Homo sapiens: one gene and its partners. The main gene of each other region encodes a partner of the protein of the gene in region 2 in a complex. Each region holds a gene or a part of one and is shown on either strand. Other genes may lie near its edges.

The links.
Region 1: POLR3E (region 2) and CRCP share a complex: the UniProt entries of both Homo sapiens proteins name them as parts of the RNA polymerase III complex.
Region 3: POLR3E (region 2) and POLR3D share a complex: the UniProt entries of both Homo sapiens proteins name them as parts of the RNA polymerase III complex.
Region 4: POLR3E (region 2) and POLR3C share a complex: the UniProt entries of both Homo sapiens proteins name them as parts of the RNA polymerase III complex.

The regions. Positions count from the first base shown.
Region 1 is NC_000007.14:66,145,641-66,153,063, reverse strand, and holds part of CRCP (DNA-directed RNA polymerase III subunit RPC9), read right to left. Parts: intron 857-7,423; coding exon 707-856; 3' UTR 1-706. UniProt on the Homo sapiens protein: DNA-dependent RNA polymerase catalyzes the transcription of DNA into RNA using the four ribonucleoside triphosphates as substrates.
Region 2 is NC_000016.10:22,292,437-22,300,529, reverse strand, and holds the start of POLR3E (DNA-directed RNA polymerase III subunit RPC5), read right to left. Parts: upstream 3,122-8,093; 5' UTR 2,993-3,121; intron 2,110-2,992; exon of another isoform or gene 1,494-2,109; intron 1-1,493. UniProt on the Homo sapiens protein: DNA-dependent RNA polymerase catalyzes the transcription of DNA into RNA using the four ribonucleoside triphosphates as substrates.
Region 3 is NC_000008.11:22,240,946-22,248,272, reverse strand, and holds the start of POLR3D (DNA-directed RNA polymerase III subunit RPC4), read right to left. Parts: upstream 3,141-7,327; 5' UTR 3,090-3,140; intron 2,829-3,089; 5' UTR 2,824-2,828; coding exon 2,659-2,823; intron 1,053-2,658; coding exon 1,009-1,052; intron 417-1,008; coding exon 265-416; intron 120-264; coding exon 1-119. UniProt on the Homo sapiens protein: DNA-dependent RNA polymerase catalyzes the transcription of DNA into RNA using the four ribonucleoside triphosphates as substrates.
Region 4 is NC_000001.11:145,819,914-145,827,520, forward strand, and holds the start of POLR3C (DNA-directed RNA polymerase III subunit RPC3), read left to right. Parts: upstream 1-4,286; 5' UTR 4,287-4,456; intron 4,457-4,531; exon of another isoform or gene 4,532-4,615; coding exon of another isoform or gene 4,616-4,634; intron 4,635-5,843; coding exon of another isoform or gene 5,844-5,863; coding exon 5,864-6,010; intron 6,011-6,540; coding exon 6,541-6,796; intron 6,797-6,906; coding exon 6,907-7,092; intron 7,093-7,607. Other genes in the region: E3 ubiquitin-protein ligase RNF115, read right to left, coding at 3,859-3,960. UniProt on the Homo sapiens protein: DNA-dependent RNA polymerase catalyzes the transcription of DNA into RNA using the four ribonucleoside triphosphates as substrates.

The DNA of each region.
Region 1 (7,423 bases), on a different chromosome or scaffold from region 2:
TCTCAGGGCAGGAAAGTGGGGTGGTCAGAAAGGCAGCCAACACTGTTTCTGCTGCCACTGTCACTAAGCCTGGAGTGCCCGTTTTCAACTGCAGTGATCTGGTCCCTAACATTTAGCCTAAACAGTGAGCTGGTAAACAAAGCCCCTGCCAGCAGAGAAAAGGGGCTCTAGAGCTGTTGAAGGATTGGCCAGGCCGGTTCTTTTCTTATCTCTGTTGTTCTCGAGGAAATTCCTCTAAGGTGAGCCAAGGTCAGTGGCTCATTTTAACTTAGAGTAACTCTCTGGGGACTCTAACCAGACTTCCAACAGTGCTCTGGGCCCCTTAGTAAGTTCCCAGGGAAGCAGATGAAACTAATTAGGACATGGCCCACCAAAGGCGACACAAGCATTTTCCCCGCTGTGCACAGAGACCTCCCCACAACTGGGGCAAAGGCCGTGGAGGAAATCTTTCAAGCACAGAGGGGTCCGCGGTCACTGTCCCCACCTTCAGCTCTCTGCCCTGACAACCTCAGCCTGTTTTCACCATGTTTCTTCTCCCCAAGGCACAAATATTTCTTTTTAACTTATTTTTGTGATGTACCCAACTAACCACAAAGCCAGGCCTGCTGGGATGAGGATAAAAATCAAATAAACAATCCTCTCAACGTCCAGGAAATGGCTGCCAGGCCTTCTGACTTCATGAAACGCCGGGGCCAGCTGTGCTCTTCTATGCTGGGTCCTCTTCGTCCATTGCCACATTGCTGTTTGTATTCTTCTTCTGCTCAGCCTCTGGCTCTGCAGGCAGAATGCTGGTGACGGTGTGGAGAAGAGCTTCAATCTGCTCCTCCGTGAGCCGCTCTTCACTCTCTTCCACCATCTGCAGAAGGAAAGAAAATCCTCCAGGGTTACAAATGAAACTTACAGCCTTGGGCAGCCCTGCCCACTGTGCTCATGGTCTCAGCCCGGCCTCCTGGCACACAGACCTCACAGCCTGGGTCCTCGTGAGTCCTCTCCATCTTACAGACGGAAGGGTGGAGCCAAGTCACATCCTGGACTGAGCCAATGCGACTGATCAAAATGGGTCAGTAAAAACCAAGTTGTAGGATAGCATTTTTCTTTAAAGAAAAGGAAAACCCCCAGCCTGGGAAGCACAGAGGAACCCCATCTCTTAAAAACAAACAAAAAAAATCAACCAAGCATGGTGGTGTGTGCCAATAGTCCCAGCTACTTGGGGGGCTGAGGTGGGAGGATCACTTGAGCCCAGGAGGTCGAGCCAAGCACTCCAGCCTGGGTGACAGAGCAAGACTTTGTCTAAAAAAAAAAAAAAAAAAAGAAAAGAAAAAAAGGAAAAAGCTAAGTTATATAACCACACACACACACACACACACACACACACACACACACACACACAGAGAGAAGTGGTGAACAGGTTGCATATGCATCTCGAAGAAGTTAAATGGCACTTTATGTACTTTTATATTTCACAAGCACATCTGTAATTTTTTTTTTGGGGGGGCAGGACAGAGTCTTGCTCTGTCGCCAGGCTGGAGTGCAGTGGCACAATCTCGGCTCACTGCAACCTCCGCCTCTCAGGTTCAAGCAATTCTCCTGCCTCAGCCTCCCGAATAGCTGGGACTACAGGCACGAGCCACCACAGACAGTTAACTGTTCGTATTTTTCGTAGAGACGGGGTTTCACCATGTTGGCCAGGATGGTCTCAATCTCTTGAGCTTGTGATCCACCCACCTTGGCCTCCCAAAGTGCTGGGATTACAGGCGTGAGCCACTGTGCCAGGCACACATCTGTAATTTAATGAACTGTATCAGCAACACGGTTGATGATGCCCACTATGTGCCAAATGGTTTGGAGCCTTCTTCTAATCCTCACTCCCACTAGCAACAGCCCTGCAGGGAGGCCTCCCATGTGTCTGGAGCTGCATCTTGCACTTCCCATCCGGCATTTCCTTTCGTCCTCCCAACAATGCTGCTAAGGGGTAGAACTGGAATCCCCAGCCAGAACTGCCCAGTCTAAAACCCACAGTCCCCCACGTTGCACACCACACTGCCCATCAAAGGTCCACATAAAACCTGGTTTCTGATGTGGTCCCAGAAATCTGAATCTAGAGATGATACTCACAGCCTGAGCCAGTTTCCTTAGCTTCGCCCCTAATTCTAAACAGAATTAGGTCGTCAGCTGCCTTTTTAAAAGCAGCAGGCAGGCAGTCAAGTTGCTTAACCCTGTTTGCTTGGTGGCATCAACCATCAATCACAAACACCTTTCTCAGCTCAAGGTGGCCAGATTCTATTCCATGGCATTCCCCACAGCAATCTCTGAAATCCGGCAACTGGGACCACAGGGAGTTCCAGAAAGAAATCCTGGCAGACTGAAGTAAAACAAGATAATAAGACAGGCCTGCAATCCTGGAGAGGATCCCAGTCTGACCACCTCCCTTTACAGACAACAGCACAGTTCAGGAAGTCATGTGACACGCCCAAGGTCACACCACGAACTCCTGGCAAAACCCTGGTCTCTCCACTCACTTCAGCCCAAAAGTGTTTCTGCAACTAGATAATAATCCTGGTGTCCCAGGATGGGGGAGATCCTGAGTGAATCAATGGGGGCTACTCCCTATGATGCTGTGAAATAAAATGACCATTTTCTAAAGATTCCATGGCTCAGGAAAATGTAAATTCTCTTCTGAGAAAGAAACAATCTTCAACTCCCCCCCTTCACTCTTGTTGCCCAGGCTGGAGTGCAATGGCATGACCTTGGCTCCCTAGCAGCTGGGATTACAGGCATGCACCACCACACCCAGATAATTTTGTATTTTTAGTAAAGACAGAGTTTCTCCATGTTGGTTAGTCTGGTCTCGAACTCCTGACCTCAGGCGATCCACTCACCTCGGCCTCCCAAAGTGCTGGGATTACAGGAGTTAGCCACCGCGCCCGGCCAAAAACCCATTTTTAAAATCAGACATGGGGCCGGGTGCGGTGGCTCACGCCTGTAATCCCAGCACTTTGGGAGGCTGAGGTGGGCGGATCACAAGGTCAGGAGATCGAGACCATCCTGGCTAACACAGTGAAACCCCGTCTCTACTAAAAATACAAAAAATTAGCTGGGCGTGGCAGCGTGCGCCTGTAGTCCCAGCTACACGGGAGGCTGAGGCAGGAGAATGGTGTGAACCCAGGAGGCAGAGGTTGTAGTAAGCCAAGATCGTGCCACTGCACTCCAGCCTGGGTGACAGAGTAAGACCCACTCTCTTTGGGGAAAAAAAAGGTGGGGGTGAGGGATAATGTAGTCATTGTCATTTATCCTAGTGATCCAAGACGTGCTAGTAAGTTTTTTATTTCTGAAAGTTTCTTTTTTGTTTATATTTCATTTAGTTTAATGCAGCTTAGGGTTTCTTCCTGTGACTGGGAACCTTAGGTTGAAAAAAAAGGTCTTGACTGTAATTAAGGAGGATTGGATGTTGATAAAAGCTCCGGCCGTTAGTGAACTTAGCAAAATTCTTTTCTGCACATTATTTTCTCAAACGGAGATCATCTTTTCTCCAGGTTAAATAATCAAATCTTGGCTATTTCCCTCCTTTCCCTGCTTTATTCTTTGGGCGCAATCATCACTTACTGCAGTCTCAAACTCCTGGGCTCAAGCAATCCTCCTGCCTCAGCCTTCCAAGTAGCTGGGACTATAGCTATGTGCCACCATGTCCAGCTAATTATTTTTTATTATTTTTTGTAGAGATGGGGTTGCCCAGGCTGGTCTTGAACTCCTGGGCTCAAGTGATCCTCTCACATCACCCTCTCAAAGTGCTGGGGTTATAGACATGAATCACTGTGTCCGGCCTTTCACCTTTTCTTTCCAACACAGGAGAAACAGTCCAAATAAAGAAGTAAAGTTCAAAGCACCATCTCAAGGTTCTCAGATACCAACCATTTCAGGTAGTTGAGAACATAAGGGGAAATAAAACTTAAAAATCCAAAGTATCAACAGCTGGGTTAACATAAATGATACATTTATTATCTCAATCCCAGGAGCATCAAACCGGGTTGCCGACCTCCAAAAATGGCAACTTGAAGTCGCCAAACCTAAAGTCCTACTTTCCTCAAAATGATTCAAAGATCTGATAGCAACAATGTATACTATTAAATATTTGATCCAGAACAGTTCACTGAATCTGGCTTTCTAAATTTCAACTTTCTCTAATGTAAAATGAAAGTAACGCCTACAGCGAGGACAAAAGGAGAACACATGTAACAGTGTTTTACAAGCAATAACGCTCTATATGAGTCAAGACTTCATAATCACGAAATCACTAACAGGCCTAGATGGTAGTGCTGTTCAGGGCAGTGGCCTGTGAGGTCACAGGATTCACTGACCTCAGGCCGGAGGGCTCACAAATCATTCCAAATCAATACACAACCGGGCACAACAAGTCCTAAGCTGGGTGGCCACCTCATTTCCTCACCGAGCCTCTGAGTCAGCAGGCAGTCATCAGAGGGCCACAGCAAATCACAGCCCAGGCGTAACTGAAGAGGTGAGGCTTCAGCCTCCAAAAGACACCTGGCTTCCAAGTGAATGCTAATAAATGTTGGATGCTGGGACTGTTTTCTGAACCCAGGGAGAAAAAATGGCTCTAGTGTTAATATAGGGAACTTCTCACTCAAGTCCTTTGTGCTTGCCACTGTAAGTGAAACCTTTTATTTCCTTTTGTTTTCTAGAGAAGGAGTTTCGCTCTTGTCGCCCAGGCTGGAGTGCAGTCACGCTCACTACACTTCGCTCACTACAACTTCCGCCTCCCAGGTTCAAGCGATTCTCCTGCCTCAGCCTCCCAAGTAGCTGGGATTACAGGTGCCCGCCACCATGCCCAGCTAATTTCTGTATTTTTAGTAGGGATGAGGTTTCGCCATGTTGGCCAAGCTGGTCACAAACTCCTGACCTCAGGTGATCCACCCACCTCGGTCTCTTAAAGTACTGGGATTACAGGCGTGAGCCACCGTGCCCAGCCATTTGCTTTTTTTTTTTTAAAAGACAGGTTCTTGCTCAGTCACACAGGCTGGAGTACAGTGGCACTATCATAGCTCACTGCAGCCTTGAACTTCTGGGCTCAAACAATCCTCTCACCTTAGTCTCCTGAGTAGCTGGGACCACAGGTGTGCGCCACCATACCTGGCTAATTTTTTTCATTTTTTGTAGAGATGGGGTCTTACTATGTTGCCCAGGCTGGTTTTGAATTCCTGGCCTCAAGCAATCCTCCCACCTTGGCCTCCCAAAGTGCTGGGATCACAGGCGCAAGCCACCATGTTCGGCCACAGCTTTCATTTCTTATTCACTCTGGTGAGAAGCGATACTGCTACAAACCTTGGTAAACAATTTGCTACCTTTTGTAGCCAAATTCCAGAGTGGGAAGAATCTGGCTATAAAATGGTCCAACTACTGAGAAACAGCAGTTTCTACCAAGGCCTACCTACTTTGTAGAAACGAGAAGGAAACCATCTCAGGGGATGCCACACACATCTTTCTTCTCATCAAGCACAAGTACCTGGCTTGGAGGAGCAAAGTAAAGCTTCTGAATCAGAAGGTCCCAATCAGCCACTCACCAGCCCTCTGGGCTAAAATGGAGAGGACACTTGCCCCCTTCCAAGACTATGGGGCGGGCATTCGAAGTGACAGACAATCACAGGCACCAGGACCAAGGACTGAGACCGTGTCTGGCACACCCCATGCACTCTTTTTTTTTTTTTTTCCCAAGATGGAGTCTCACTCTGTCACCCAGGCTGGAGTGCAGTGGTGCAATCCTGGCTCACTGCAACCTTGGCCTCCCGGGTTCAAGTGATTCTGCCTCAGCCTCCCAAGTAGCTGGGATTACAGGTGTGCACCATCATGCCCAGCTAATTTCTGTACTTTTAGTAGAGATGGGGTTTTACCACTTTAGCCAGGCTGGTCTTGAACTCCTGACCTCAGGTGATCTGCCCACCTTGGCCTCTCAAAGTGCTGGCATTACAGGCATGAGCCACCGCGCCCGGCCCACCCCAGGCACTCTCAATAGCAGCAAATCTTCCCCCAAGTAATGATACCACTTTCCACAGGCTCTGGCTGAGGTCACACTAATCCTCATCTCTTCTCTCTGCCTGTCATTAAGCCATGAGTAACATATGTTGCTGATTAAAGCTGGAGGAGACATGACATATGATCTTTAACCCAGAGGGACAGGGATTCGTTTCTTGCTGTTCTGTTTGTTTTTTCTCTCCTCTAAGCTCTAGGTTGAAACTCCAATACAGTGTAAAGCATGAAAATAATCAGGACACATGAGAAAGGGGTTTCTATTTAGCCTACAGGCGGGTTCCCAGAGAAAGGCACCCTTCATGAAAGGAACTGTTCTAATTTAATTTTGGGTACATTCTGAAGGGCAAAAACAACCCTAGGAAGACAATGAACAATTTAGTAAAAAATTAAATACCCTGTGGCCTTTTAAAAAGTTTTTCCATTAGCAACTCTAAAAATCGTATTTTTGACCATTTTCTTCCATACTTTTCTAAAGGAAATTTGACAAAGAGCTAAGTATTTCTAAAACTGACTTTGGAAACTGCTTTATTCTCATTTTGTTAATTCTCTAAAGTTTCTTCTTCTTTTTTTTTTTTAAACTGGCAATTAGACGGCCTGCTTAACACTTGTCAGGTACCGATGCTCTCTGCCCTGTAATAAGAAGGCAGCGGCCACAGCGTGCCCAGTGGTGGCCCGGGTATCTCCCTGGATCATTTCCCGGGCCCCTTATCCCATCGTAGGCCCCTCTACTCTGGCTGCCTCCTCCTATTCCAAAGCCTACGCTCTCAGTACAAAGCGGACTTCACAAGTGATGAGGCTGTACTAAATAAACGGTTTATGCAGGGAAATGGGATCACATTCATGGTTTTAGATGTGATCTCTGACGGTGATGTGGGAGATGGACTTGGGGAGCCAGGGAGAATGGGGAGAGGATAACCGCAAGAGCCGCGTGAAGAAATAATGGCAGAAATCAACGCAGTACACGGGGGAGAGAAGCAAGAACGAAGACAGAAGCAACAGAACTTGGGGACTCCCTGACTGTGAGATGAAAGGAAGAGAATGGCTTGCAGGTTTCCGGCGTGGGAGGCCAGGCCAGGAGATGAGCAAGGAAGGGAGCTGATGGGACAGCGCACACATGCTCCCCTCACCCAGAAAGAGAGGAAGCAAGAGCAGGGTGAAGGGTGGGCGTGGGGACAGAGAATGTTCACCAGAGACATGCTGAATTTCATGTTTTTTATGCAACATCTGGTTGGCAACAACGCCTACAGGGAAGCAATGGCCAGAATGGCCTGGACATCAGGGGAGTCGGAGAGCCGCCAAGTCATCAGCCAAAACCCTAGAGGAGGAATGAAATCTCCTCCAGTGTTTTGTGGTCCCTAAGTCCACACTAACTAGGATCAAA
Region 2 (8,093 bases):
TGGGAGGTTCCCAAGACGCAATTGTTCTTTCTTGGCTATTGCTATGCCCTGTTGGCCTCTGCCCTGCCAGGGATCAGGGAGGCTGAGGTGCCCTGTCAGCTAGAGAGCTGGAGCTCCTTCCTCTGGATAGTACATCTGGGTTGATACAAAGAGTGTCACCTCCCTTCATCCTCCAGGCCGAGGTGATCCAACTCAGTGGCTTTCAAAGTTTTCAGCCTAAGATCCACCACAGTAAGAAATCCATCTCATATAAATAACCCAGAACATACATACAGTTGCATAACTGAAACAAGGTTTCACGTAACTATAACTGTCCCTACTATATGTCAGGCCGTGATGTTTTCTACTTCATTCAAAACAAAAAATGCTAGCTTCAATTCCCTTAAATTGATTTTACTTCCCACTAATAAATTTTAACCTGCAATGTGAAAAGCACTCATCCAAGTCTCCCTACGGCTCCTTATACCTACCTCCAAGTCTCCCAGCAACAGTGAGTCTTTGGAAAGAAGTAAATCAGGCTGGCATGGTGGCTCATGCCGGTAATCCCAACACTTTGGGAGGCTTAGGTGGAAGGACTGCTTGAGACCAGGAGTTCGAGACCAGCCTGAGCAACATAGTGAGGCGCCCCCCGCCCCCCGGTCTCTCTTTAAAAAAAAATTTTAGCCTGGCATGGCCTGCAGTCCCAACTACTTGGGAAGCTGAGGCAGCAGGATTGGTTGAACCCAGGAGTTTGAGGCTGCAGTGAGCTATGATCACACCACTGCGCTCCATCCTGGGTCACAGTGTGAGACTCGATCTCTACTGGGGGGAAAACAAAGCCAGGCACGGTGGCTCACACCTGTAATCCCAGCACTTTGGGAGGCCGAGGCAGGCGGATCACCTGAGGTCAGGAGTTCCAGAAAAGCCTGGCCAATAAGGTGAAACCCCGTCTCTACTTAAAATACAAAAATTAGCCAGGCGTGGTGATGCACGCCTGTAATCCCAGCTACTCGGGAGGCTGAGGCAGAAGAATCACTTGAACCCAGAAGGCAGAGGTTGCAGTGAGCCGAGATCTTGCCACTGCACTCTAGTCTGGGCAACGGAACAAGACTCCATCTCAAAAAAAAAAAAAAAAAAAAAGTAAATCATATTATTTCCCTGCCTAAGACCTGTCAACTGCCACTGTCACATAAAATAAAACCCAAACTCCTTTCCATGAGCCACCTAAGGCCCTACATAATCTTGTCTCTGTCTTCCCCTCACCATCCAGGCTGGTAGCCACTTGCTGGGCCTCCAACAAGGCAAGCCCCAGTCCACCCCAGGTCCTTTGCACATCATCTATTCTCCCACAGGGATTTCCAAGGTTGCTCCTTTTTATTAAATATCATCACCGCCTGCAGGAGAGGATAGGTTCCCTGACCACCCTATTTTAAAAGCCTCCCCCAGCCTCCTCCCAGGCCCTACCACATCTCTGTTTTCTTTCCTTGGTGGGTCTCATCTTAATCTGGAACTACCTGGTCTATTTGCTCAGGTGTTGTTTGTCTTCTGCAATAGAACGTAAGCTCCATGAAGGCTTCTCAGTGCTTCAGTTTCCTCAACTATGAAATGCAGACAATCATACTTTACTTCATCAAAGCTGTTATGGGGAGCATTACTTTAAAAAAAAAATCCAGTGCTGGTTCTCTCAATACCTAGAACAGTGCCTGGCACGAAGTTGACACTCAATATAGTACAAAGAATACTTTATATTTAATCTTCTCATTAGCCCTATCAATAGAGATTTATCATCTTCAATTTGGAAATGACGAGACTGAGGTTCAGATATAAGCAACTCATCCAAGGTGGAATGAGGACAGAAACTTGGGTCTCGCTATGTCAAAGATCCTTATTCTTATTCTTAACCACTATACTGCACGGTTTTCTGATAAACGGCAGTATGGTTAAGTGGGTAAGAGCTTGGACCCGAGAACAAAACTGTGCAGGTTCAAATCCCACCACAGCTGCTTGGCATCTGTGACCCACCTGAGTTGTCTGGGTTTGGTATTCCTCCCTATTTTCATCCCTAAAGTAGGGAAACTAAGTACCGACCTCCAGACCCCTGCGGGGAAGGAGTAAGGACAGGACGCTAATAAACGTAACCTCTGGGAAGGTTTGTTATTACTTGACAACATGTTTTCTGCCAACGTAAGCGGGTAATGACGCTAAGCCACAAGTCAAACGCTGCAAGCAGGAGCGTCACCCGGTTTCTACTGAGCCGTCACCACAACCCTATGAGGTAGGAATTTCTATTATCTCTATTTCACAGATGAGGAAACTGTGGAGATCGCTAAGATCTCTTCTTTCCGCCTCCAAGCCCAAGGAATTCTAAAGCTAACCCAAAGGAACGACCTTGTTTGTTTACTGACACCTCCTCGGACCGAATGGTCAGGGCTGTATCCGGAACACAGAGTTGGCTCGGTAAACACTGAATGGTTGCCTGAATAAATGAATGAGGAATCCCTGGCCTCGCCGGGCAGAGGCTAATCCGGTTCAGCTGCGAAGTGGGGGCTCCGGCAGGCGCAGGTGCCCTCCCTGCCCATCGGGGCGGGCCGCCGATCCCGAGCCTCGCTGTCCAATGGGTTTCTGCTCCCTCGCGGGTGGTCAGGCCCCCCTTCTCACGCCCACCACGCAGTCCCTGCCGCGAGCCGCCACTACACCCGACGCGCGGACAGGTGTTTCTTCCGTAGGAGGCCTCCCAGGCCCGGATAGGGCAGGTCGGCTGGACCCTGAGTCACCGCCGCCAGCGTCGGCCGCGGCCTCCCCAACTCCCAGGTGTCAGGTCAAGGAAGTCAGAGTCCGGGGTCGGCCTGGAGCCGGCTGCCCCTCCTCCCCGCCCGAGTCCCGAGAGGCCTCCAGCTGCTAGGCACAGCGCGGCGCGGGCCTCCTTGGCCTACTCGGGAATCTAGCCCAGGCCCACGTCGTGAGTGCGGTCCGGCTCAAGCCCCAGCTCGGGCACTGCCAAGACGGGACTCACCTCTCCGCGGGGGCCGAGCGCGGACGGCGGCAACGGCCCAGTTACCCGCGGGCTGCAGAGACGGCGGCGGCCCGGCTCTCCTCTCAGGCGGCGGCCATGTTGCTGGTGGAGAAACTCCGGCGGACACGTGGGGGGGAGCGGGCCGGCCCCAGCGTTTCCTCTTACCCACAATGCCCCGCCCCGGTGCACGCGGCTCCGCCCCCTCCGCCGCGCCATTCATGCAGGCCGTGAGCCCCGCCCTGCAGCAGGGGGCGCTGATGGCACGCGCAAAACTGAGCCAGGAGTGTATGCAGCGGGGACAAAAAGACAGCAACCCTGGCAGCGGTGGGATTCGAACCCACGCCCCCGAAGAGACTGGAGCCTTAATCCAGCGCCTTAGACCGCTCGGCCACGCTACCCAGCTGCAATATGTTTATGCCAGAAAGCTACTTAATGCTTTTGCTTTTGCATTTAATCTGGACATTGCGAGGCGTTTTCGCTGAGGTTTTTTTTTTGCTTAACGTGTGTTCAAGGTGATCCCTATAGAATTATTTTAAAAAGCCGTGTTTTGGAAAATAAACACTTGCTCCAGTCTTTAGACCCAGGTTGGTTCCGAATAGGTATTAGAGCAAAACGCATTTTTAGAAACTTTACTCTGAGTTGGATGGTTAACCCGGAGACCCCTGGTTAACCCACAGGTAATCCATACGACCCGGATTGGGTGTCTCCGGGAGAAGAAATTGATCTGATCAGAAACATGCACCAGGGGATCTGACGGCCAAACCCTGGAGCTGGTCTGGGCAGTTGTCTCTGAAAAATTATGTTTAAATTTTTACTTACACAAATAACACGCGAATTATTGCAAAATATTTAAACTTTGCAGATAAGGTACAAATGCTCTTTGACCTTGACTCGCATCCTAGGCCCCTCCGCCGAGGTAACTAACCATTATTATCTGTTTAATATGAACTATGGTTTGAATGTGTCCCCCAAATTTCATGTGTTGGAAATTTAATCCCCAATGTGGCAGTATTGTGTGGTGGGCCCTTTAAGAGGTGATTAGATCATGAGGGTGGAGCCCTTATGAATGGATTAATCTCTTCATGGATTCATGGATTAATGGGTTAATGGATTAATGGGTTATCTTGGGAGGGGGACTGATGGCTTTATAAGAAGAGGGAGAGAGACCTTAGCTAGCAAGGGAGCAGCTCAGCACCCCCTCCATATGATGGCTTGTACTGCCTGGGAACTCTGCAGGTGTCCCCCACCAGCAAGAAGGCCCTCACCAGATGCACACTCTTGACCTTGGACTTCTCAGACTCCATAACTGTAAGAAATAACTTCCTTTTCTTTACAAATTACCCAGTTTCAGGTATTCTGTTATAAGCAACAGAAAATGGACTAAAACACTATATATCTTTCTAGATCTTTTGCTGTGAATTTATATGTTTATATCTATATGGATATATATAGATATAGCCATAGAAGATAGCTTTGTTTTTATTGTGTATGGATTTGAACACAAATATTGTCACATTATTCATATAGATCTGCAATTGGCTGTTATTTTTCACCAGACTGTATTTTAAAATACCTATCCGTGTGGATATGCAAAGATATTAAAAACAAAAATGCACAAAAATTACAAAGAAAAAAATTATCATCCATAGTGCCACCACCTGGCATTAAATTAATGACTTAGTATTGTGGCATTTTTTTCCTTTTCTTTTTTCTTTTCTTTTTTTTTTTTTTTTTTTTTTTTTTTTTTGATGTGGAGTCTCGCTCTTGCTGTCTAGGCTGGAGTGCAGTGGTGCGATCTCCGCTCACTGCAATCTCTGCCTCCTGGGTTCAAGCGTCTCTACTAAAAATACAAAAATTAGCCTGGCGTGGTGGCACATGCCTGTAATCCCAGCTACTCGGGAGGCTGAGGCGGGAGAGTTGCTTGAACCCGGGAGGCGGAGGTTGCAGCGAGCCGAGATCCCACCACTGCACTCTAGCCTGGGCGACAGTGAGAAACTCGGTCTCAAATAAATAAATAAATAAATAAATAAATAAATAAATAAATAAATAAAAAATAGATCACACTATTACAAATAGAAATTATTAGACCATTGCAAATAGAAATAAGTCCCCCTCCCATTCTCCCCTGTCTATAACTGTCATGAATTTGATGTGTATCTTTCCAATAATTTCTTACATTTTTACTATAAAATTTATGAATAATATCTAAAATGGTTATCTGTATGTTTTTCACTTATATAAATGTTAGCACATTGTACTGATATCCTAAAACTTGCTTTTCTCATTTCAACAGTATTATTATTATTATTATTTTAAGAGAGTGTTGCTCTGTCACCCAGGCTAGAGTACAGTGGTGCAATCATAGCTTACTGTAGCCTAGACCTCCCGGGCTCAAGCCATCCTCCCACCTCAGCTTCCCAAGTAGCCAAGATTACAGGCATGAGAGACTGTGCCAGGCCCAACATTATGTTTTTGAGGTCTGTTATGATGCCTATAGATCTAATTCATTCATTCCATGCCATGTACAACTTTTAAGTTGTTACTAAATTTTTGTCATTACACACAATATGGCAGGAAGTATCCTTGCACATGGCTCCTTGTCTTACGTATGGACATTTCTCTAGGGTATACACTAGAAATGAAATTGCTGGTCTATATTTATACTTTCCCTAGTATTATATAATAATAATATTAATAATAGGCTGGTCTCAGTGGCTCACTCCTATAATCCTAGCACTTTGGGAGACTGAGGTGGCAGGATTGCTTGACGCCAGGAGTTCAAGACCAGCCTAAGCAACATCGAGAAACCTTGTCTCTACCAAAAAACAAAAGAAAAGAAATTAGCCGGGCATGGTGGCATGTGCCTGTAGTCTCAGCTACTTGGGAGGCCGAGGTGGGAAGATCCTTTGAGCCAGGGAGGTCAAGTCTGCAGTGAGCCGAGATTCAGGTGCTGCACTCCAGCCTGGGTGAGAGAGTGAGACCCTCTCTATATAGATATAGATATGCATATATTTTTCCATTTTGCCAAATTATATGACTTTTGATGACTTTTTTTTTTTTTCTATTTCTTCCTGAGTCAACTTTGGCAAGTTGTCGTTTTCTGGGAAAACAAAGCCCCATTACTTGATTTTTCACATTTATTGGCGTAAGAAATCTCAAATATCCCTCATATCTAAGGTTTTGTCCTCTATCATTCTCTATCGTTTCTCTTTCCCTCTGTCATTTACGTGGATTACTTTCTCCATTAGTTCTGTTCAACACAGGGAGTGGAGTCAATGCTTAAGGTGACTGAATGGGGGAATTAGGCAGGAACTCTACGAACGCTGGTGATGCTTTAGACACATCAAAAACTATATAAATCACACTTTTATAAGTAGAATTCTCATTTTGCATTGACTGGTATTAGACTTTTCAGGGCCATGATTCAAGTTTCTGGCTAATATCCAGTTGGTACACACCCCTAACATTTGGGCATTTTATGTCTTTCCTCTTCAATCCCTCCTTAGCCTGGCTTTTCTCCCCCTCCATCCACCACCTTTTTTTTTTTTTTTTTTAGAGAGACGGGGTCTTGCTTTGTTGCCCAGGCTGGAGTACAGTGGTATGATCACAGCTCACTGCAGCCTTGACATCCTGGGCTCAAATGATCCTCCCATCTCAGCCTCCCAAGTAGCTGGGACTAGAGCCACGCGCCACCACACTGGGCTAACTTTTGTATTTTTGTAGAGACGGGGTCTTGCTTTGCTGCTTAGGCTGATCTCAAGCTATCCTCCCACCTCAGCCTCCCAAAGTGCTAGAATTACAGGAGTGAGCCACCACACCTGGCCATCCATCTACCTTTAACATATGTAATGATATGCAAAGATTTTCTTGTGCTAGAAAAGTTTGTTGCTCTTCAAGACATTAAAAAAAAATACAGAAGCAGCCATGGATTGAAGACAAAGGGTAGGCATTGTGGGGAGTTCAAAGCTGAATGAGGAATAACCCCTTTAAGTCAATAGGAGTGTTTGTCATGGTATTTTAGTACCAGGAAGGACTTTGTTTGTGAGTTGGGTACTGGATTTTCCAAAAGGAAATATCCTCACAGTCAAGGATAATTGCTGGCATCTTTGCCCAGTCTGATTTTTCTAGGAACTGCCTGACCAGCCAGAGAGTGGGTCCCTGGCAGCCACCTTTGTGCTGCACGCCCCACCCCCACAGCCATGGCTAGTGGGTTCTACCGTTCTTCAGTGGACGTAGGATTCAGGTTGGACCAATCAAATTCTCTCTTGAGAATGTGAACTGAGACTCCGTGAGTTACTGATTTTGTTTTTTTTTTGTTTGTTTGTTTGTTTTGAGACAGAGTCTCGATCCATTGCCTAGGCTGGAGTGCACTGGCGTGATCTCGGCTCACTGCAACCTCTGCCTCCCAAGTTCAAACAATTATCCTGCCTCAGCCTCCCAGGTAGTTGGGATTACAGATGCACGCCACCATGCCGGGCTAATTTTTTTGTGTTTTTATTAGAGATGGGGCTTCACCATGTTGGCTAGGCTGGTTTCGAACTCCTGACCTCAAGTGATCTGCCCACCTCAGCTTCCCAAAGTGTTAGGATTACAGGCGTGAGCCCCCGCACCCGGCCCGATTTGTTAATTTGACCGTGTTGCGTTGGAATTAGTCTCTGAGGCTGGCTAAAACTAGGAAGAAAGGGGGATTTCGCATGGCTATATTCTGTGAGGTGAGTTGGAGAGGTAGACAAAAGCCAGTGTATAGAAAAAGAGGGAATGAGAGAGTGAGAAGAGCAGAGTCAGGGAAATCCTGATGGTTTTCTGGCTTCCAGCTCCAGACCCTTTCCAAGGCCCAGTGGGTTGTCCACTCTTGGAGGCATCCCTTTATCACTGTAATAAATTCCCTTTCTCTGCTAAAGCCCAGTGCTACTTGGTAGTTGTCAACTGTAAACAATAACCCCCTCCCCCTTGCAAGGCAAAGGCTCAAATGAAGCTGTGTGTGTGTCTTTGTGTGTGTGTGTGTGTGTGTGTGTGTGTAGAATTTTTTTTTTTTTTTTTGAGACAAGTTCTTGCTCTGTTTCCCAGGCTGGAGTGCAGTGGCACAATCATTGCTCACTGC
Region 3 (7,327 bases), on a different chromosome or scaffold from region 2:
CTTCTCCAGCATACGCAAGATCTGTTTAGTTTCTTCGTCTGTCTCTCTCTTCTCTTTTTTGATGTTGATGATATGAGAAGGTCCCATGTCTGACACATCCACTGTCTTATCCCAGTTCCCTGTGGGAAATCACCCAGGTCACTAGGGATCGATAAGGAAGATGCCCAACAGCAAGGAAAACGGAAATGGGAGTGGGGAAATTCCACTGTTCTCGCCCTTCTCTGGGGCAGTCTGAACTGAAATTCACTGATTCCTTCCTTATACCTTTTTTCTTCATCATTTCAGCTGGGCCCTGCTCAAAGATGGAGTGAGACTGGATCACTTCTGGACGGCCTCGCCCTCGTCCATGCCCCTCTCGTTGTCGGTCTCTGTCCCTTTCACGCTTCTCCTTCTTGACAGTTACTTCTTCCTTGGGCCTGGAAAAAAGAATGGATTAAGGGAAACCACTCACTCACTGTGTCTCCAAAATCTGGCCTTACTCTCCCATACCACTTCACTCCAAAACAGTGGAGAGTTTGAGCCAATATTTACACCATGAGAAGCAGAATCCAATCCTAATTCTAGCACTTTTCTCACTTCCTTGATGAGGCAGGATTTTTTCAGTTTGCTTTACTTTACCTTCTTGTCCAAAAATATAGATTTTTGTTTGCATTGGGACTGAAAGCAGGAAGGCAGAAATGCAAAGGAACTTCAGGGAAAGTGTGATACATCTTTGTTTAAACTATTGGCTCTCAACTCGGGCAACAAAGAGAATCACTCCATTCTACTGCCAGCAAGTTAAATCACAATTTCTAAAGATGGAACCCTAGACACCAGTAATTATTTATTTATTTATTTATTTTTTAAAGCTTGCAGAATCACCTAGGAGCCAGGGTTGAAAATCACTAGTGAAAAGAACTAAAGATATAAATTTAAATTTTGGAGCTACAAACCTAGTTATTTCCCCCAAAGCCCCAAATTCAGAGCAAGTAAATAAGGGGCAAGTATTCAGAAGGCCTAGCTACTTACTCTTCCTTGATCTTCCGACTGATGATATTTGGGGTGAAGGTTTTCTGAAAGCAAAATACAGGAGTCACTGATGTGTTAGGTTCTGACCCCAAAGTACAGAGGAAAATAAAAATTCCCAAAGGGCATCTTCTACAGACCAAGGCCACCACGGCTCTCGTTGGCACATTCCACAGTGCTGTCAGTTTTATAGATACACATGTGCCTGAAAAGGAGGAATGTCATAGTGTGGTAGCAGTGGAGTTACACATAGAAGGGGGCACCAAAACCCACTTTTAACCAGCAGCCTTAGGTTCTGCCTCTGAAAGAAGATCCTCTGGGACTTCTAAAAGCAAAGGAATTTCTCTGGTCTCACCTCTTCTCTTCAAACTGCTATAGAGACCAGTCAGTATCATGGGGGAACAGCTCTAGCAGCAAGGCCTAAGTAGGGAAGGCCATAGATCTGCCAACACTTTCAATCAGGTGACTATGGACTGTCACCACAATTTTCCAAGGCAAAGTTAGGTTTTTAAAAACTGCTTTATGGCTGGGCGTTGTGGCTCATGCCTGTAATCCCAGCACTTTGGGAGGCCAAGGTGGGTGGATCACGAGGTCAGGAGTTCAAGATCAGCCTGGCCAAGATGGTGAAACCCGTCTCTACTAAAAACTACAAAAAGTAGCTGGGCGCGGTGGCGGGCCCCTGTAATCCCAGCTACTCGGGAGGCTGAGGCAGGAGAATCGCTTGAACCCGGGAGGCGGAGGTTGCAGTGAGCTGAGATGGTGCCTCTGCACTCCAGCCTGGGCGACAGAAAGAGATTCCCTTAAAAACAAAACAAAAAACCAAAAAACCGCTTTATTCGGCCAGGAGCGGTGGCTCACACCTGTAATCCCAGCACCTTGGGAGGTCGAGGCAGGCGGGCGGATCACGAGGTCAGGGGTTCAAGAACAGCCTGGCCAACATGGCAAAACCCTGTGTCTACTAAAAATACAAAAATCAGCTGGGCATGGTGGCGGGCGCCTGTAATCCCAGCTACTCAGGAGGATGAGGCAGGAGAATCGCTCAAACCTGGGAGGCAGAGGTTGCAGTGAGCTGAGATCGTGCCATTGCACTCCAGCCTGGGGGACAACGGCGAGACTTCCTCTCAAAAAAAACCAAAACCAAAACCAAAACCTGCTTTGTTCTTCTGTCATCCTGACCCCACCCCTTTCTGGGCTACTCTTGACATCCACAGTCATATACACATGGGAGAGGCCACAGAGCCTCGAATGCCATACCTAGGATTCATCATACTCTAGATAAAAAGTTTGCACACAGAGATGGTGAATTCTGAACCCTCTAAGACTGCGAAGTTTATGCCTGTCTGGCTTTCATGGGTTTCTTAAAGATGTCCAAACACACAATAAAAGTAAATAAACACTGTTCAAATTGCTTTTGAACGACTTTAACTTATTAGGATTCTCTGCCCTTCAACCACCTCTGGGAGTCATTTCAACATCTTGTACTCAGTACCTAGATTTGAAGGTAGGACAGACTCCCTAGAATTTAAAGAGGGGTAGGCTTGAGAGGCCCAACGACAGTCCTGACACACAGTAGGTCCTACACAAACATTAGTTGAATCCTGGGGCTTGGAATTCAAGGTAGTTGAGTTTCTTTAGAAACGCGCCGTTGGGTACCTTCTTGACTCCCCCGAGGGTGAGGTCCCTGGAACGGATGGAGGGAAGGCGGCCGGGGGTGAGGGGAGGCGCCGGCCGCCGCCCGATGAGCCCCCGGGCCCCAGTCAGGAGAGGTCGGGGCCCTCCCGGCGTGCTGGGCTCGCCGGCGGCGTTTCCTTCCGACATGTTGCCTGGGAGAGAAGGGGCGACGAGATCACCAGAGGGGACTGACACGCGGACCCTGGCGGAACCCCACCCCCTTGCTTTCCGGTCCCCCAGTCGGTGCGTCCCTCCAGTGGCCTCTCAGCTCCTCCCCTCCCACGTGGCGAGACTCCCGGGACCACCCAGGTGAGAGCCTTTGGCTCGCGACACGCCCTCTCCAGGAACCCCGCCCAGGAACCAGACAGGGACGCACCCGGGCCGCGGCTCCACACCGCGCGTCACAACCTCACCTGCAACGCGACCAGCCGCCAGCCTTCGGTCTCCGCGCCGGGCGGAAGTCTGCGTGGCAGGGCCTGGGCGCCGCCATCTTGGCGCGGGGCGGAAGTGACGTTAGGGGGGCGGGACTGGGCCACAGTATTTATCAGGCGGCGCTTCGCTCCCCTCCGCCTTCTCTTCCCGGTTCTTCCCGGAGTCGGGAAAAGCTGGGTTGAGAGGGCGAAAAAGGATGAGGTGACTGGTCTGGGCTACGCTATGCTGCGGCGCTCGGGGGTCTTGGCCTCCGGGCGGTGGCGTGGAGGCGCCAAGATCAGGGTCCCGGGTTTTGTCGGCCACCACGCCGCAATGTGAGGATTCGCCTCGGCGGAGCCCCTGGGAGCTTCGGGGTAGCTGCTCGGGATGGGGCGAGGGGCGCGGCGCGGCGCAGAGAGTGAGACCTGGACTTAAGAGTCGGGGAGTCCTGGGCCACACCGAGCCCTGTCTGCGGGTTCTCCATGGTGACCTTGGAGTGGTCATTACCTCCGGGCAGCGACCTCGCCCACTTTCGGGGACCCCTTCCCTGTGCTCCTGGTGGAGTCCTGGGGTGAGGCTGTGGGGGCAGCTTGGAACAGCCGCAGTGGACCAACCGGTGCCCAGTCATACCCGCTTCTGATCACGAAGGCGGTGGCCCTCGTGTGCGCTCTTGGTCAAAGCCTGGAGGGAATTGGAATACCAAGTTTGCTCTACTGCTGGAGGAATTTAAAGAACTTTTGTTGACTCCAGCGTTTGTGATTTAACATAAAAGGTGTCATTTAATGTTATCCCCCATCCCCCAGACCGTATAAAAACCATGTAACAATATTATGGGGAGTTTGAGGAAAGGAAATCATTTCTACCAGAATGCCACGTAGAGTACTACTATTAAAAATTTTGTAATGTATCTAGTAGTCTTCACAGAGTTGTCGTATCACAATTTCGTGTCCTTTTTCTTTTCTTTTCTTTCTTTTTTTTTTTTTTGAGACGAGGTTTCTCTCTGTTGCCCAGACGGGAGTGCAGTGGTGCGATCAACACACCGCAACCTCTGCCTCCCAGGCTCAAGCCATGCTTCCACCTCAGCCTCCTGAGTAGCTGGGACTACAAGTGCATGCCACCACGCCCGGCTAATTTTTTCTTTTTCTTTTTTTTTTTTTTTTTTTTTTTGTATTTTTCGTAGAGACGGGGTTTCACTATGTTGCCCAGGCTGGTCTTGAACTCCTGAGGTCAAGTGATCCCACCCGCTTCGGCCTCCCAATGTGCTGGGATTACAGGCATCAGCCACCACGCCTGGCCTGTATCCTCCTTTTTCAAATAACATTTCTCTGTTGCGACATCAAAGACTGCGTAGTTCTCCAGTGGCTGTATCATGATTTAAGTATTTCCCTGATTGTTTCTTTTTTCCCTGTTTTAAATAATGCTGCAGTGAATGTCTGGTACATTTGACTTGCTTTTTTTCGATTTTGTTTTTGTTTTTGTTTTCTTTTGGATTATATTCCCGGGATAGATTTCCCGTCCTGGGATAACTGGCCAAAAGAAGATTTTTTTTTAAGTAAATATTTGCGATAGGCACGGTGGCTTAGGCTTGTAATCCCAGTGCTTTGGGAGGCGGAGGTGGGAGGATCGCTTGAAAGGCTCGGCAGTTGGAGATTTCAGTAAGCTATGATCCAGCCCTTGCATTCCAGCCTGGGTGACACAGCAAGACCCTATCTCTAAAAACATTTTTTAAATTAAACTTTTTATTTTGAGAACATTGTAGGTTCATGTAGAGTGGTAAGAAATAATGTAGAGAGATCCCAAGTACTGTTTACTCGTTTTCCCCCAGTAGTAACCTCTTGCCACCAGAATATTGACATTGGTACAGTTAAGATACAAGAAGTTTCCATCACCACAAGGATCCCTCTAGTTGCCCTTTTATAGCCACACCTCCCTCCCCCCACCTCCTCCCACCACTAATCTGTTCTCCATTTCTGCCATTTTGTTATTTCAAAAGTGTTACATAAATGGAATCATACAGTATGTGACTTCTTGGGATTGCTTTTTTCACTCGGCATTGTTCCCCGCAGATCATCCAAGTTGTGTGTATCAATAGTTCGTTCCATTTTATTGCAGAGTATTCATGGTTTGTTTAACCATTCACCCTTTGAAAGACATCTGGTGGTTTTCCGTTTGGGGTTATTATGGATAAAGCTGCTGTGAAAATACATGTACAAGGTTTTGTGTGAACGTAAATTTTTATTTCTCTGGGATAATTGCCCATGAGTGCAATCATTGGGTCATATGGTAGTTGTATCTTAGTTTTATAAGAAACTGCCAAGCTGCTTTCCACAGGGGCTGTACCATTTTGTACATGCACATTTTATGGTTCTTCATTCATATTGCTAAATTGCTTTCAAAAAGGATTGTGTGGCCGGGCGTGGTGGCTCACGCCAGTAATGCCAGCACTTTGGAAGGCCGAGGTGGGCAGATCACTTGAGGTCAGGAGTTCCAGACCAGCCTTGCCAACATGGTGAAATACTGTCTCTACTAAAAATACAAAAATTAGCTGGGCGTGATGGCACACGCCCATAATCCCAGCTACTCAGGAGGCTGGGGCACAAGAATCGCTTGAACCACAGAGGCGGAGGTTGCAGTGAGCTGAGATCACGCCATTGCAGTCCAACCTGGGTGACAGAGGGAGACTGTCTCAAAACAACAAAAACAAAAAAAACCCCACAAAAAAACAAGATTGTGCTGAAATGCATCAACACTAAGAATGTGTGTATATACAATAATCAAACGTATATACACACACACACTATATACACACACACACATTGTGGGCTTTTGAAGGACTCCTGGGTGAGGCTGTGTGGGCAGCCTTGGAACAGCCACATTGGATCAACCGGTGCCCAGTCCCACCCTTCCTGGGCTCACAGCAGTGACCCTCATGTGCACTTTTGGTCAAACCTGGAAGGAATCTGAATACCAAGTTTGCTCTACCGTTGGAATTTAAAGAACTTTTATTGGCCAGGTGTGGTAGCTCACACCTGTAGTCCCAGCACTTTGGGAGGCTGAGGTGGGTGGATCACCTGAGGTCAGGAGTTCAAGACCAGCCTGGCCAACATGGTGAAACCCTGTCTCTACTAAAAGTACAAAAATTAGCCAGGCCTGGTGGCGGGCATCTGTAATCCCAGCTACTCGGGAGGTTGAGGCAGGAGAATCACTTGAACCTGGGAGAAGGAGGTTGCAGTGAGCCAAGATTGCGCCATTGCACTCCAGCCTGGGCAACAAGAGCGAAACTCTGTGTCAAAAAAAAAAAAAAAAAAAGAGCCGGGCACAGTGGCTCACGCCTGTAATCCCAGCACTTTGGGAGGCCAAGGTGGGCGGAACACGAGGTCAGGAGTTCAAGACTAGCCTGACCAACATGGTGAAAACCCGTCTCTACTAAAAATACAAAAATTAGCCTAGCGTGGTGGCATGTGCCTGTAGTCCCAGCTACTTGGGAGGCTGAGGCAGGAGAATAGCTTGAATCCGGGAGGCGGAGGTTGCAGATAGCTGAGATTGCGCTGGAGTGTAGACTCCAGCCTGGGAGACAGAGCAAGATTCCGTCTCAAAAAAAAACAACAAAAAACAACTTTTATTGACTCCGAAATTAATGTGTGTGTAAACACACACACACACACACACACACACACACAGAGAGAGAGGTAGTATATAAGAATATATAATTTTAGGGCTTGGTGGCACCCACCTGTAGTCCCAGCTACTTGGGAGGCTGAGGAGAGAGGATCGATTGAGCCCAGGAGTCAAAGGCTGCAGTGAGCCTTGATTGTGCTACTGCAGTCCAGCTTGGGAGACAGAGGAGACCTTGTCTCAAAAAAACAAAAAAGAGAATATATAATTTTTTGGCCACATCCTTTTGAGTATTGGCTTTTAAAATTTAGAACTTTGTTTGCCAATTTACTAATATATTAATATTTTGTTATGTTGTTTTCTAAACAGATCCTTTTCAACTTCTTTCTTCATGTTGATTTTACAATAATCAAACCAAACCAATACCCTTTTCCTGTTCCCTACAGAGCTACACGCAGCAGCCCTTAGCTTCTAATTAGAGCACTGGATGAAATAGCTTTGATTTCATTCTGTTGGGCTTTGAAGTTCACCAGGTAGTAGCTTTTTTAGTTTTTTTTTTTTTTTTTGAGACGGAGTCTCGCTTTGTCGCCCAGGCTGGAGTGCAGTGGTGCAATCTCGGCTCACT
Region 4 (7,607 bases), on a different chromosome or scaffold from region 2:
TGTAATCCCAGGTATCTGGGAGGCTGAGGCACGAGAATCGCTTGAACCCAGGAGGCAGAGGTTGCAGTGAGCTGAGCTCGTTCCACTGCACTCCAGCCTGGGCTAAAGAGCAAGACTCCATCTCAAAAAAATAAATAAATAAAAATTAAAAGCTAATCTACCACAATCAAGTAGTCTTTACTCCTGGGATGCAAGGTTAGTTCAACATAGGCAAATCAATAAATGTGATTCATCACATAAACAGAATTAAAAACAAATACCACATATCAGGCCAGCCGCAATAGCTCATGCCTGTAACCCCAGCACTTTGGGAGGCTGAGGCAGGCAGATTGCTTAAGCCCAGAAATTTGAGACCAGCCGGGGCAACATGGCAAAATCCCATCTCTACAAAAAAGAAAAAAAAATTAGCCAGGCATGGTGGAACACACCTATCTACTACTACTCAGGAGGATATAGTGGGAGGACACATTGAGCCCACAAATTCAAGAACAGCCTGGGCAACAAGACAGAATAAATTCTGTCTCTATTTAAAAAGAAAAAAAGAGGCCGGGTGCAGTGGCTCACACCTGTAATCCCACCACTTTGGGAGGCCAAGGTGGGCATATCACAAGGTCGAGATGGAGACCATCCTGGCCAACATGGTGAAACCCCGTCTCTACTAAAAATACAAAAATTAGCTGGGCATGGTGGCACGTGCCTGTAGTCCCCACTACTTGGGAGGCCGAGGCAGGAGAACTGCTTGAACCCAGGAGGTGGAGGTTGTAGTGAACCGAGATCGCACCACTGCACTCCAGCCTGGTGACAGAGCGAGACTCAGTCTCAAAAAAAGAAAAAGGGAATATACTGTATATTTGAAAATTGCTAAGACAGATTTTAAGTGTTCTCACCACGCAAAAATAAGTATGTGAGGTAATGCATGTTAAATAGCTTGATTTAACCATTCAGTGTATACATATATCAAATCATGCTGAACACTATAAAAAATATAGTATACAACTTTTAGTTGTGAAAAAAACATGATTTATTAAATATTTCTCCCTTCTTCATCAACTCCCTCTTCCTTTTGCTACCTCACAGTCTTTGGAATTCTCAATCTGAAATGTACCCATCCCTCAAAACTCAATTTAAATCCCACTGGCCACACCAATGCTATGAAATTCCCCTCTCTGAATCCTAAAGCACATATCCTCATTCCCTTTATGCTGTTACTTTTTCTATGTTTGCCTTGTCTTTCCCCAAAAGCTGTAAGATCCTTAAGGGCAGGAGCCACATATCACTCCCTATCACCTCCAGGACACTCAGCAGAGAACCTTGGATATATTTAGGAAGAATCCGGTTATACTCAATTGTGTTAGGCCTCAATTTACAAATCAGATATGACAAATAATATATCACACCAAAAAGATCAAGAAACTTCTCCAGGCATTAACTAAGGCTTAGAAAAACACCTATTCAGCTTTTCAAATTATCCCTTTGAAGTAAGGACTTAAAGGTGAGAAGAAAAGATATAATCAATTGGGGAAGTTTAGACTGTCTTCTCACTCTTTTTTTTTTTTTTTTTTTTTTTTTGAGACAGGGTCTGGCTCTATTGCCCAGGCTGGAGTGCAATGGTGCGATCTCAGCTCACTGCAACCTCTGCTTCCTGGGGTCAGGCAATCCTCCTACCTCAGCCTCCTGAATAGCTGGGACTACAGGTGCATGCCACCACACACACGGCAAATTTTTTTATTTTTTGGTAGAGACGGGGTTTCTCCATGTTGCCCAGGCTAGTCTCGAACTCCTGAGCTCAAGCGATCTGCCTGCCTTGGACTCCCAAAGTATTGGGATTACAGGCCTGAGCCACCACGCCTGGCCAACTTCTCACTCTTAAAGGCAAAATAGTGAACAGCAACTTAAAGATCAAAAAAGCTAAGGATGGAATATTCAACAAGGCATCACATTCAACAACACACCACTGGTCACACACATACTGGCTGAATTCCAGACTCCCTCTCTATGGTAGAAGAGTTCTGCAGGCTCTGATGTTGGCTGGAAAAAAACTAGACACCTGCTCTTCCCAGCACTGAAATATGGCCAAAAAAAAAAACATAAACACACAGCAAAATCAGCAAACAAAGCTAAGTAGCATTTAGGCGGGGAGCAGTGGCTCACGCCTGTAATCCCAGCACTCTGGGAGCCCGAGTCGGGTGGATCACTTGAGGTCAAGAGTTCGAGACCAGCCTGGCCAACATGGTGAAACTGCATCTCTACTAAAAACACAAAAATTAGCCAGGGTGCGGTGGTCGTGCACCTATAGTCCCAGCTACCCGGAGGCCGAGGCAGGAGACTCTCTTGAACCCGGCAGGTGGAGGTTGCAGTCAGCCGAAATCATGCTCCTGGGTGATAGACAGAGGCTGTCTCAAAAAAAAAAAAAGAAAAAAGAAAAACAGCTAAGTAGCATTTAGATGAAACTATGACTCTGAAGTAGGGGGTGCGGCAAGTAGAGAGGAAAGAATGTATCATAATGCCTTAAACAAAACTTTTGAGTGAGAGAAGACTATAAAACACCCTTTAAGCACTTATTCACTGGACTCCATTTGTGTTTCTAAGAAATAAGATATACAGACTCACTTCAGAAGGTTTTCTCCTACACTGTATCTGAGACACCATAAATAGAAACATACATTATGTTGCCACTCTATCACAAGACTGAACCTGGACACTTGTAAGGAAAGGAACAACCATAAAGACAGTTGGCCAAGGACAGGATTGACATTCACTCTGGGGGAGCTCCTCGTAGTAGCTACAACCCAACCCAAAACAGTTTCTGGGTTTGTGATGCTGGTGCTGGCTAGTATGCTGCATAAATGTTGTTTGTTTTTGTAGAGAGGGGTCTCACTCTGTTGCCCAGGCTGGTCTCAAACTCCTGGCCTCAAGCAATCCTCCTGCCTCGTCCTCCCAAAGCACTGGGATTACAGACCTAAGCCACCGCGCCTGACCTACAAAAGTGTTTTCTTCCCAACCACAGCACTGCCTCTCAAGGGGCTAACACTCTGGCAGAAACTCGTGAAAACCAATTTCACGTCAGAGGAAGCATCCCCAACATTCTGTCCCGGCTCTTTTTCTTAGGTGAAGAAAGGGACAGGGCGGGGGGCGGAACAATGATATTAAAGACACTGGCAGCATGACAACCAAAATAAACGAAGTTGAAACAGTACGTCCTGCCTTCTTCCTAAAGCCATTTCCTTCAACAGTGATAGGAGTGCAGACCGTCTGCAAGTCATTAGTACGCTGCTGTCTTCACTGTCACAAGGACCCTGGAAACCACTGAAGAGCAAAATCCCCCTTTTCGCCCCACAGATACCTTCCAACCCCCTTTCTGTGCTTCCTTCCCTAGAAAAAACCGAAGAGTGACAATCCTCAGCAATCCGCTATTTCGCTTCACTGACAAGGGAGGTGGCGGGGGCGGTGGGGGGTGAAAAGTGGAAAAGAACACAGAGGAAGGTGAGAAGACACAGTGGAAGAAGTGTGGGGGGAGGTCATCGTAGGAAAAAGACCAGGTATAAAAGAATGCAAGAAAATTGAGGGGAGAGTTATCAGAGGGAAACTTGCTAAGAAAAAAAAAAATTAAGGACACGGGAGGTAAAGAGGTGAGGTCAGGTGGAGCAGCCCAGGATGAATTAAGAGGTGGGCAGGAGGTACGGGGCCGAGGCCGTGATGCCCAGGGTTTAGGGCCGGCGGCTTAGAAGTGGGCAGCAGGTATTCGGCAGACCGATGTCGGGCGAGTCAATGATGTGCAGAAAGCTCCAGACCCAGTTCCGGGAAATCGGGGCCAGGAATCTATGAGGTTCCCAAGTATAGAGAACACAGCGCTCTTACCGGTAGTTTGGGGCTGACCTCGCCCTTGCAAAAGTGGCAGAAAAACCGGTGGGCGGCTACAGCGGCGCCCGAGTCCGCCCCGGCCGCCGAAGCCTCCGCCATTTTTGCCCTCCGCCGCGGCCGTCCGAGAGGGCAGCCGGCCCGTCCCTCGCCAGGCCGCTACCTCCCGAGCTGCAGTCGTCGCCGCCGCCGCCGCCTCGGTGCGGCCCACCGCTTCAGAGCCCGCGTCGGTCACGTGAGTTGGCCAGGCCCAGAAACGCGGCGGCGCCAACAGCTACCCTGCGGCCCGCCTCCCAGCACCAAAGAGGCGCAGGAAGGAGAGACAAACGGCCCGCCCGCCGGCTCCACAAACAGCCCCTCGCTGGTCCTCCAGTCTTCCAGCGAGAAGAAAGAAAGAGCGTCCCCGGAAGCCGCCGAAACTCTGGGGTAGAGTGGCACGCGCTTTTTGCTTTTCCGCGTCTTCTTCGGTGGCGATCCGCGTCCTAGAAAGGGCGGTGGGCTCCACCTCGGCCTAGAAGGCCAGCGGGAGCCGTAGGAAGCCGTCGCGGGAAGCTCAGCCGAATTGGAGTTGGAGCCCCCGGATTGCGCTGACCCTGAGGTTAGTGGAAAATGCTGTCTGAACGTGGCGGCACTGACTGGACCAAGAGACCACGTCCGAAACGGGAACCTGTGTAAAGGAAGTGTAGAGCTAGGAGCCAAGCGCCTTGGAAGCCCTTTCCGAGGATGGCAAAGGATCTGGGAATGCTTCTCCAAAGATATGTGGATGGACGAAATAGGTCTCTGGTGATACTGAGGCGGGGTGGGGACGGGGAGGCAAAGACTTGGCTTCTTAGGAATTGGAAGAAATAAGTAAACAATGTTTGGTAGCAATTTGTAATAAGGAAGTAATCATAAAATTAACTACGTCCGTTTCTGATTGTGTCAACTTTGTCAAGGAGTAGAAGTTTAAGAATTGAATACTGTCCTGCAAACAACGTAACCTCATCTCCTGTTTGACACACCCTGTTGAGAAGCAGTCCTTTACCTCCTAAATTTCTTTTTCGAAATTATCATTTCCTTTATGGACTGAGAATAACACTGCCTGTTCACTCCCACCGAGCTGTGAACAGTGACCTTAATTCTTCCAAGCAGTGAAGTGTAGAAACTAAGGTCTGTGACAGACCGCAAAATCATCTCCCAATCTTTAAGGAAAATCAGAATCACGCATAATCCCATAGAGATAAATTTGATGCATAGTCTTTTCCTATGCATACATTTTTCCTTTTTTTTTACAATAATTGAATTTTTATATTTTTTCAGCTTGCTTCTGTCACTTAATATATTATGAGTAATTTTTTTTGTTTTTTTTTGTTTTGGAGACAGAATCTCGCACTGTCGCCCGGGTTGGAGTGCAGTGGCGCGATCTCGGCTCACTGCAACCTCTGCCTCCCGGCTTCAAGCGATTCTCCTGTCTCAGCCTCCCTAGTAGCTGGGATTACAGGCACCCGCCACCACGCCCAGCTAATTTTTTTGTGTGTTTTTAGTAGAGAAGGGGTTTCACTATATTGGCCAGGCTGGTCTCAAACTCCTGACCTCATGATACGCCCACCTCGGTCTCCCAAAGTGCTAGGATTACAGGCCTGAGCCACCGCGCCAGCCTATTATGAATAATTTTCTACATGAATACGCATCGTACTAAATAACTTTAAATGTTGGTGTAGTATGCCATTGTATGGGTATGGCATCATTTATTGTTAGACGTTAGATTGTTTCCACTAAGTCGGTATTATAAAGAGAACTAATGACTTCATTATTATTAGCTTTTTCTTTCTTTGGACACAATATCCAAAAAGAAATTGTTGTTTCAAAGATATGCAAGATTTTTAAGGCTTTTTGATATGTATTGTCAAATTGCCCTCCAGAAAGAATACATGAATTTACACTCAGCAGCTCTGCTTCCAGCGTGAAAGACTTTCTATTGTACCATTTTGGTGTTTTTTCCCTAGCTCTCAGACTCCCCAGTACAATGACTCAAGCAGAAATTAAGCTCTGTTCTTTGTTGCTGCAAGAGCATTTTGGAGAGATTGTAGAAAAAATTGGAGTCCATCTGATAAGAACCGGCAGCCAGCCACTAAGAGTAATTGCCCATGACACAGGAACATCACTGGATCAGGTATGTCTAAATGACATTCATTTTCTCTCATTTCTTTCACTAATTTATTTCACCCACCTTTGAATATTGTTCTTCTCACCCCAGAAAAGGAAAAATGAAGAAAGCCTGCCCTTGGAGCAGAACAATGTTATTTCGGGGAGAAAAGGATGAGACTTAGACATCAACATTTTGTTTCTCAAAGTGTTCCTAGTTCATCACAGCTTTTAGGCAAATCTTTGCTCTTCCCATGCCGTACCTCATTTATTCACAATAAGTCTATTAATCTCAGTACTGCCTTTAAGGAATGAGAATGATGAAAGTAAATTGTGTTTTGAGAGATAAGGATCAGAGGAAATATAGCAAGGAATCTTCCTGATTTATTGTATTGATGTGTGATTCTTATTAGCTCCTCCAGTGGAGAGAGGAAATAAGTGCAGAAATTATCTAGCCATTTTCTGATGCTTACTAAGCTGTTGGACAAAAAATTGCCAGCAGTAATGAGCTATATCTTCAGGTCTTTCCTCTCTTTCTTCTCTTTATGTTCCATTTAGGTGAAGAAAGCCCTGTGTGTCCTCGTCCAACATAACCTGGTGAGTTATCAAGTGCACAAACGTGGTGTGGTGGAGTATGAAGCCCAGTGCAGCCGGGTATTGCGAATGCTTAGATATCCCCGGTACATCTATACTACCAAAACTCTGTACAGTGACACTGGAGAGCTGATTGTTGAGGAGCTTCTGTTGAACGGCAAACTGACAATGTCAGCTGTTGTGAAGAAAGTGGCAGACCGGCTCACAGAGACCATGGAGGGTCAGTATGGTATCCATAGCTGTTAACAAAAGCATAGATCAGCTGGCTATGGGAGTGAACCCTGAGCTATCTTAGGCCATCTCATCTGCCTTTTTCCTCCTGTTATACAGATGGCAAGACCATGGACTATGCTGAAGTATCAAACACATTTGTGCGACTGGCAGACACACACTTTGTACAACGCTGCCCTTCGGTACCTACCACTGAGAATTCAGACCCTGGGCCACCACCACCTGCCCCCACACTTGTCATTAATGAAAAGGACATGTACCTGGTTCCTAAACTCAGCTTGATAGGTAAGGAATTTTAACCCCTGGAACTGTGACTTGCCTTAATTGTGGATTCTTCTTGATTGTCAAGTGTATGAAATGTGATTGTATTTACCAAGTATTTGCTATGTGCCAGACATCGTGGTGTATAACAATGAAAAAATCATGGTCTCTGCCATGGGGCTTTAGTATAGGAGACATACATTAATCGGAAAATCACATCGATATATCATTAAACGGTGATAAGTACTATGAAGGAAATATTCCTATGAAGGAACTGTCATAGTATTATGAGACATGCATTAATCAGAAAATCACATCAGTATATAATTAAACTGTAATAAGTGCCATGAAGGAAAAGTATGAGGTGTTATGAAAATATATAATGGAGACTTTGGGAGACTGAGGCAGGCGAATTGCATGAGGCCAGGAGTTCGAGACCAGCCTGGGCAACATGTTGAAACCCCATCTCTACTAAAATTATAAAAATTAGCCAGGTAGCCGGGCATGGTGGTTCACGCCTGTAATCCCAGCACTTTGGG